Homo sapiens: one gene and its partner. The protein of the gene in region 1 interacts with the protein of each later gene in a biochemical or structural test. Each region holds a gene or a part of one and is shown on either strand. Other genes may lie near its edges.

Region 1 (3,813 bases):
TCAGAGTCTTCAGCCTGGGGTTGGTGTCTGCCCTTGGAAACTGGTTGAGATCACCCAGAATATAGACAAAGACAGGGTCTTGGGGCACCCCAACATTGAGAGATTGGGGAGATGAGAGGCCATGAAAGAGCTGGAGGTGGCATGGCCTGGAAGGCAGGGGGAAAGCTGGACAGGGCCCTGGAGGCCCAGGGAAGGCAGCTGGGAGGGACTCGACACTGGGTCCCACGCTGTTGAGCCTCAGGTGATGCCTGGTGACTGACAGGGCAGTCTGGTGGGCACGAGGGGTTGTGGTCTGAATGGAGCAGGGGTAAGAGCCCAGCAGGGGAGGAGAGTCAGTAACAGTGAACACAGACAACTCTGGAGGAGATGTGCGTAAACTGAAGCAAGAAATGGAGCCATAAATAGCAGGAAAAGAGGTTTTCTTCTTCTGTTTTGTTTTTTGTTTTTAAGAAACGGGGTCTTGCTATGTTGTCCAGGCTGGCCTCGAACTCCTGTGCTCAAGCCATCCTCCTGGGGTCAGTCTAGTCGTGGCTCTGTAACTAACTGCCCTGGAATATGCAAACGAGGTCTTTTATCATAATCGCAGACCTGGAAGCCAGGTTTTCAGGGATTCATCAGAGTGTGGGGAGCCCTTGGCTCTCCTCCACCAGGGCAAGCCTTGACAGGGATGACTTGAAGAGCTGGGGACAGGCTAGATGTGTCTTCCCCTACCCCCACACCGTCCCTCCACTCTCCCCTGTCCCCAGCATGGCTAGCTTGGTTTTCCTGGCAGCATGGTGGTGTTGGTGTAGTTGAGCTTCTTGCAGGAACTCAGAGCCCTAGGAGGCTAAGGCAGAAGCTGCCAGTCACTTTAAGGGCTAGACCAGGAGGGCACCGTCCCTGCCACCACAGTCTGCCCTAAAGGCAGCCTCCAGCCCAGATTCACCTGGAGAGGGAGGGAGACAGCCACCTTTCATACAGCTGTCTTTTTTTTTTCTTTTTTGAGAGAGAGTCTCCCTCTGTCACCCAGGATAGAGTGCAACAGTGCGATCTCAGCTCACTGCAACCTCTGCCTCCCGGGTTCAAGCAGTTCTCCTGCCTCAACCTCCCGAGTAGCTGGGATTACAGGCGCCTGCCACCACACCCAGCTAATTTTTTGTATTTTTGGTAGAGATGGGGTTTCACCATGTTGGCCAGGCTGGTCTCGAACTCCTGACCTCAAGTGATCCACCCGCCTTGGCCTTCCAAAGTGCTGGGATTACAGGTGTGAGCCACGGAGCCCGGCCAAGACATTCCCAGGTGTTTAGATGAGACATTTGTATTTTTGACAGGAACACCACAGAAGAGGCAAACAGCAGCCCCATCAGCTTTCAGGAGGCGGCGGAGGCCTTTGCCTCATGACTGGATGCTGATGCTTTGATGCTTGGTTGGGTAGTGTTGGCCTGGATTCCCCCACTGTAAGGTTATTTCTTCCTTTTGTAACTAAAAGTATCTTGTAGGGACTTATTTTGAAACCCTGTAAACGTCCTCTTATTCAGATTTTCAAGGTTTTTTTTTCTTTCTTTCTTTCTCTTTTTTTTTTTAGACGGAGTCTCGCTCTATCACCCAGGCTGGAGTGCAGTGGCACAATCTCGGCTCACTGCAAGCTCCACCTCCTGGGTTCAAGCGATTCCCCTGCCTCAGCCTCCTGAGTAGCTGGGACTACAGGCGCCCGACTAATGTTTTTGTATTTTTAGTAGAGACGGGGTTTCACCGTGTTAGCCAGGATGGTCTCGATCGCCTGACCCCGTGATCCGCTTGCCTCAGCCTCCCAAAGTGCTGGGATTACAGGCGTGAGCCACCACGCCCAGCCTTTGGTCGCTATTTCTTTAGCTATTGATTCTGTCCCCTTTCCCCCAACATGCCAGTTAGACCATTTGACTATGTACACATTTTTCTTAAAATCCTTCTGAGTGGTGGCCGGGCGCAGTGGCTCACGCCTGTAATCCCAGCACTTTGGCAGGCCGAGGTGGGTGGATTGCCTGAGCTCAGGAGTTCAAGACCAGCCTGTCCAAGATGGTGAAACCCCGAGTCTACTAAAATACAAAAAAAAAAAAAATTAGGCGTGGTGGTGGGCGCTTGTAGTCCCAGCTACTCGGTAAGCTGAGGCAGGAGAATGGCTTGAACCTGGGAGGCAGAGCTTGCAGTAAGCCAAGATTGTGCCACTGCACTCTAGCCTGGCGACAGAGCAAGACTCCGTCTCAAAAAAAAAAAAAATTCTTCTGAGTGGTTACCCCTGTTTCTTGCATGTACACAGAAGTGCAGTTGATCTCTGTATATTGACCTTATACTTGGCAGAGTGGATCAGGCGTCCTTGGCTGGTCCTGACCAAGAGGGAAAACTTCTTTTTTTGTTTGTTTTTTTGAGACCAAGTCTCTCTCTTGTCCCCCAGGCTGGAGTGCAATGGCATGATCTTGGCTCACTGCAACCTCCGCCTCCCGGATTCAAGCGATTCTCCTGCCTTAGCCTCCTGAGTAGCTGGGACTACAGGCACCTGCCACCACACCCAGCTAATTTTTGTATTTTTAGTAGAGACGGGATTTCACTATGTCACCATGTTGGCTAGACTGGTCTCGAACTCCTTACCTCAGGTGATCCACCCACCTCGGCCTCCCAAAGTGCTGGGATTACAGGCGTGAGCCACTGTGCCCGGCCTCAAAAGGGAAAACTTGTAATGTTTCACTCCCAGCACCACATTGCTGTAGACTTTTTGTAGATACCCTTTATTTGATTAAGGAAGTTGGGCGCGGTGGCTCATGTCTATAATCCTTGCACTTTGGGAGGCCAAGGTGGGTGGATCACCTGAGGTCAGGGGTTCGAGACCATCCTGGCCAACATGGCAAAACCCTATCTATTAAAAATACAAAAATAGCCGGGCATGGTAGCACATGCCTGTAATCCCAGCTACTTGGGAGGCTGAGGCAGGAGAATTGCTTGAACCCAGGAGGCAGAGGTTGCAGGGAGCTGAGATCACACTACTGCCCTCCAGCCTGGGTGACAGAGTGAGACTCTGTCTCAAAATTTAAAAAAATAAATAAATTAGTCAGGTGTGGTGACTCACATGTGGTCCCAGCTACTCAGGAGGCTGAGGTGGGAGGATCACCTAAGCCCAGGAGGTCGAGGCTGCAGTGAAACATGATTGCTCCTCTGCACTCCAACCTGGGAGACAGTGAGGCCCTATGTCAAAAAACAAAGGCCTGGCGTGGTGGCTCATGCCTGTAATCCCAGCGCTTTGAGAGGCCGAGGTGAGTGTATCGCTTGAGGTCAGGGGTTGAAGACCAGCCTGGCCATGGCAAAACCCTGTCTGTACTAAAAATACAAAAATTAGCTGGACGTGGTGGTGGGCGCCTATAATCCCAGCTACTGAGGAGGCTGAGACAGGAGAATCGCTTGAACCTGGAAGGCAGAGGTTGCAGTGAGCCAAAATCACACCATTGCACTCCAGCCTGGGCAACAAAGTGAGACTCCATCTCAAAAAAAAAAAAAAAATTTTCCTCCTATTTTTGCTTTACTAGGAGTTTTTATCACGAATGCCTTTATCAGATGCTTTTTTTGTATCCACTAAAATGACATGATTTTTCTCCTTAATTTTGACAGCATGGTAAGTTTAGCGATGGCTGTTCTTGCGGAAATCTAGTTTTGCGTTCCTGGAATAACTCAACCCAGTTGTGTTACAATACCCCTGCTTGTCACTGGGCTCATCTGCAGGCGTTTTGAGGAGGTTGGTGTCACTTCCTGTCCCACCTGTCTGTGGGCTGTTGGGGTGGCCTGAGCCACCTGCGGTGCCGTCAGCCC
Region 2 (3,813 bases), on another chromosome or scaffold:
TTTTTTTGTTTGTTTCTTAAGACATGAGGTCTTCCTGTGTTCCCCAGGCTGGAGTGTAGTGGCACAATCATAGCTCACTGCAGTCTCTAACTCCTGGCCTCAAGTGATCCTCCTGCCTCAGCCTGCTGAGTAGCTGGGACTACAGGCACAGATCACTGTGCCTGGCTTTCTTTTGATTACTTTTTAATGGCATACGTATGTAACATGACATTTCCTTTATGAAGGCTGCCCTCAGGGAGCTTTTAGCCTATTAAGTCAGAAACAGGGAAGTATATAAATATGCACAATGATAAAGGGTACACAGGATACAGTAGAGGCCAAAGGAGGAAGTAAGTGGTTACCTTTACTGGGATGGGCTAGGAAAAGCATCAGAAAGAGGCACCATGAGCTAAGCAAGAAGGAAGAAGAGAGGAAGAGTGTGTACAGCACTTTGGGAGGCTGAGGTGGAAGAATCACTTGAGGCCAGGAGTTCAAGAGCAGGCTGCACAACATAGCGAGATCCTGTCTCTCAAAAAAAAAAAAAAAAAAAAAAATTAGCCAGGTATGATGGCACGTGCCTATGGTCCCAGCTAGCTGGGAAGCTTAGGTGGGAGAGCTTGGCAGTCAAGGCTACAGTAAGCCATGATCATGCCACTGCACTCCAGTGGGCAATAGAGCAAGACCCTGTCTCAAAAACAAAACAAAACAAAAAAACAAACTTGTCTAAAGGCAAGGGGCATGGTACAATTTGTGGTGGTCAGAGAATTGCAAATTTCTACATGTGAAGAGACACAGTGAGAAAAAGACATGAGGCTGAAATATACTGCCTGACAGCTGGATGCTGGCCTGTCTTCAAACTGCTCTTTCCACCTTTCCCTAAGTTACTTCTGTCTTGAGAGTGTAGTCTTACAGCAGCATAGTCAGGTAGGCCAGACTGTGAACTCATTGGAAAGTGGAAACTAAAACCAACAATTTGACAGCCTTTCTTCATTACAGGGTAATGATTTGTTTCATTTCCTTAATATCTGGTTGAAAAGTCTTCTTCCAATTAACTTTAGGTATTGACCAAGAAGAAATTACAGGACTTAGTAAGAGAAGTGGATCCTAATGAGCAGTTGGATGAAGATGTGGAGGAGGTAAGGTGGGGTTGGGTACCCCAGAAACTGGTCCCTGAGAACCGGTATAGCATAGTGGTTAAGAGCACAAACAGGCCAGATGCAGTGGCTCATGCCTTTTGAGAGACCAAAGCAGGAGGATTGCTGGAACCCAGAGGTTCAAGACCAGCCTAGGCCATATAATGAGACCTTGTCTCTGCAAAAAATTAAACAATTAGCTGAGTGCCAGGTGTGGTGGCTCACTCCTGTAATCCCAGCACTTTGGGAGGTCGAGGTGGGCGGATCACAAGGTCAGGAGATCAAGACCATCCTGGCTAACACAGTGAAACCCCGTCTCTACTAAAAATACAAAAAACAAAATTAGCCGGGCATGGTGGCGGGCGCCTGTAGTCCCAGCTACTCGGGAGGCTGAGGCAGGAGAATGAAGTGAACCTGGGAGGCGGAGTGCAGTGAGCCGAGACCATGCCACTGCACTCCAGCCTAGGCGACAGAGCAAGACTCCATCTCAAAAAAAAAAAAAGAAAAAAAATTAGCTGAGCGTGGTGGTGTGTACCTGTAGTTCCAGCTACTAGGGAGGTTGAAGTGTTCTTAAACCCAGAAGGCCGAGGTTGCAGTAAGCCAAGATTGTACCACTGCAATAAATAAATAAAATAAGAGCACAGACAAATCTGAATTTGCTTTATACCCAATAACTGCTGCTACTTTTGCCTGTTAAAAACGGCATAGTCTGTTGCTCACAGGCAATCACTTTCAACAATTTTAGCTGTTTCTGTAACATTCTTCTATATTTCTAAGTAATATACTTAAAAAGATACTCTTTGACCCATTAATTTTATAATATTCTTTTTTTTTTGAGACGGAGTTTCGCTGTTGATGCCCACGCTGGAGTGCAATGGCGCGATCTTGGCTCACCGCAACCTCCGCCTCCTGGGTTCAAGCGATTCTCCTGCCTCAGCCTCCTGAGTAGCTGGGATTATAGGCATGCACCACCACACCTGGCTAATTTTTGTATTTTTAGTAGAGATGGGGTTTCTCCATGTCAGTCAGGCTGGTCTCAAACTCCTGACCTTAGGTGATCCACCTGCCTTGGCCTCCCAAAGTTCTGGGATTACAGGTGTGAGTCACCGTGCCTGGCCAATTTTATAAGATTCTGTTGATTCCCTATTATGGTAGATGAGAATTTTTTACACTACTCAATGTGTGCCATATAACTTTTATTTATTTATTTATTTATTTTTTTGAGACAGTCTTGCTCTGTTGCCCAGGCTGGAGTATAGTGGCAGGATCTCAGCTTACCGCAACCTCTGCATCCCGGGGGTTCAAGTGATTCTCCTGCCTCAGCCTCCCAAGTAGCTGGGATTATAGGCATGTGCCACCACACCTGGCTAATTTTTGTATTTTTTAGTAGAGATGGGGTTTTGCCATGTTGGCCAGGCTGGTCTCGGACTCCTGACCTCAGGTGATTCACCCACCTCGGCCTCCCAAAGTGCTGGGATTACAGGCATGAGCTATCACGCCTGCTGGTCCATATAACTTTCCTTACTGTTTTTCTTTTTCTTTTCTTTTTTTTTTTTTTTTGAGACAGAATCTTGCTCAGCTGCCCAGGCTGGAGTGCAGTGGTGCGATATCGGCTCACTGCAAACTCCATCTCCCAGGTTCAAGTGATTCTTCCACCTCAGCCTCCCGAGTAGCTGGGATTACAGGTGCACACCACCATACCTGACTAATTTCGTATTTTTAGTAGTAACAAAGTTTTACCATGTTGGCCAGGCTGGTCTCAAACTTCTGACCTCAAGTGATCTGTCCACCTCAGCCTCCCACAGTGCTGGGATTATAGGTCTGAGCCACTATGCCCGACCCTGGCTATTCATTCTTAAAGAATCACTCACTGAAAAGCTGATTTGAAGTATAATTGATGGATTTGGCCCAGTAATATATGGGTAAATGTTTAACAACTAGCTCTTTGGAGAAAAATGCCCGATTTGCAGTGCTTTATTATTTCTGTGGTGTAACTATTTCTACCAACATGACATCACTAAATACAAACTTGGGAAAAGAGGTACACAGTTGGCTTTTATGAGCTGGTCTCGGTTCACTCTAGCAGACCACAAGACTTTACTTCAGAGTAATTTGTCCACAAGTCAACCTTCCTAATGGAAGATTCCCTAAATGTCAGTATCTGTAAGTCTTTTCTCTGGAATCATTCAATATCTCCGGAGAAAATTCCAGTCTCCTATCTTGAGGATTTATCCCTTAGCTTCTTTTTTTTTTTTTTTTTTTTTTTTTTTTTTTTTTGAGACGGAGTCTCGCTCTGTTGACCAGGCTGGAGTGCAGCGGCATGATCTTGGCTCACTGCAACCTCCACCTCCCGGGTTCAAGTGATTCTCCTGCATCAGCCTCCTGAGAAGCTGGGACTACAGGCACACGCCACCACACCTGGCTAATTTTTGTAATTTTAGTAGAGACGGGGTTTCACCATATTGGTCAAGCTAGTCTCGAACTCCTGACCTCAGGTCATCCACCCACTTCGGCCTCCCAAAGTGCTGGGATTACAGGCATGAGCCACTGCACCTGGCAATATTTTTTTAACTTATTTTAATGGGATTAGGGAGGGACAGGAGGTTATTTTTAGAGTTGATCTGCTGTTTAATCTGAAATCTTTCTCTAAGATGGTGTCCATTTGGTTCCCACAGTAAAGATGACAATGAGTTAATGGTCC

The links.
Region 2: the proteins of CPSF1 (region 1) and TAF12 form a complex in vitro, tested with the Homo sapiens proteins (one study listed by BioGRID).

Annotation. Positions count from the first base shown.
Region 1 is NC_000008.11:144,402,793-144,406,605, reverse strand, and holds part of CPSF1 (cleavage and polyadenylation specificity factor subunit 1), read left to right. Parts: intron 1-772; exon of another isoform or gene 773-776; intron 777-1,310; exon of another isoform or gene 1,311-1,441; intron 1,442-3,615; exon of another isoform or gene 3,616-3,739; intron 3,740-3,813. UniProt on the Homo sapiens protein: Component of the cleavage and polyadenylation specificity factor (CPSF) complex that plays a key role in pre-mRNA 3'-end formation, recognizing the AAUAAA signal sequence and interacting with poly(A) polymerase and other factors to bring about cleavage and poly(A) addition.
Region 2 is NC_000001.11:28,615,255-28,619,067, reverse strand, and holds part of TAF12 (transcription initiation factor TFIID subunit 12), read left to right. Parts: intron 1-1,037; coding exon 1,038-1,115; intron 1,116-3,813. UniProt on the Homo sapiens protein: The TFIID basal transcription factor complex plays a major role in the initiation of RNA polymerase II (Pol II)-dependent transcription.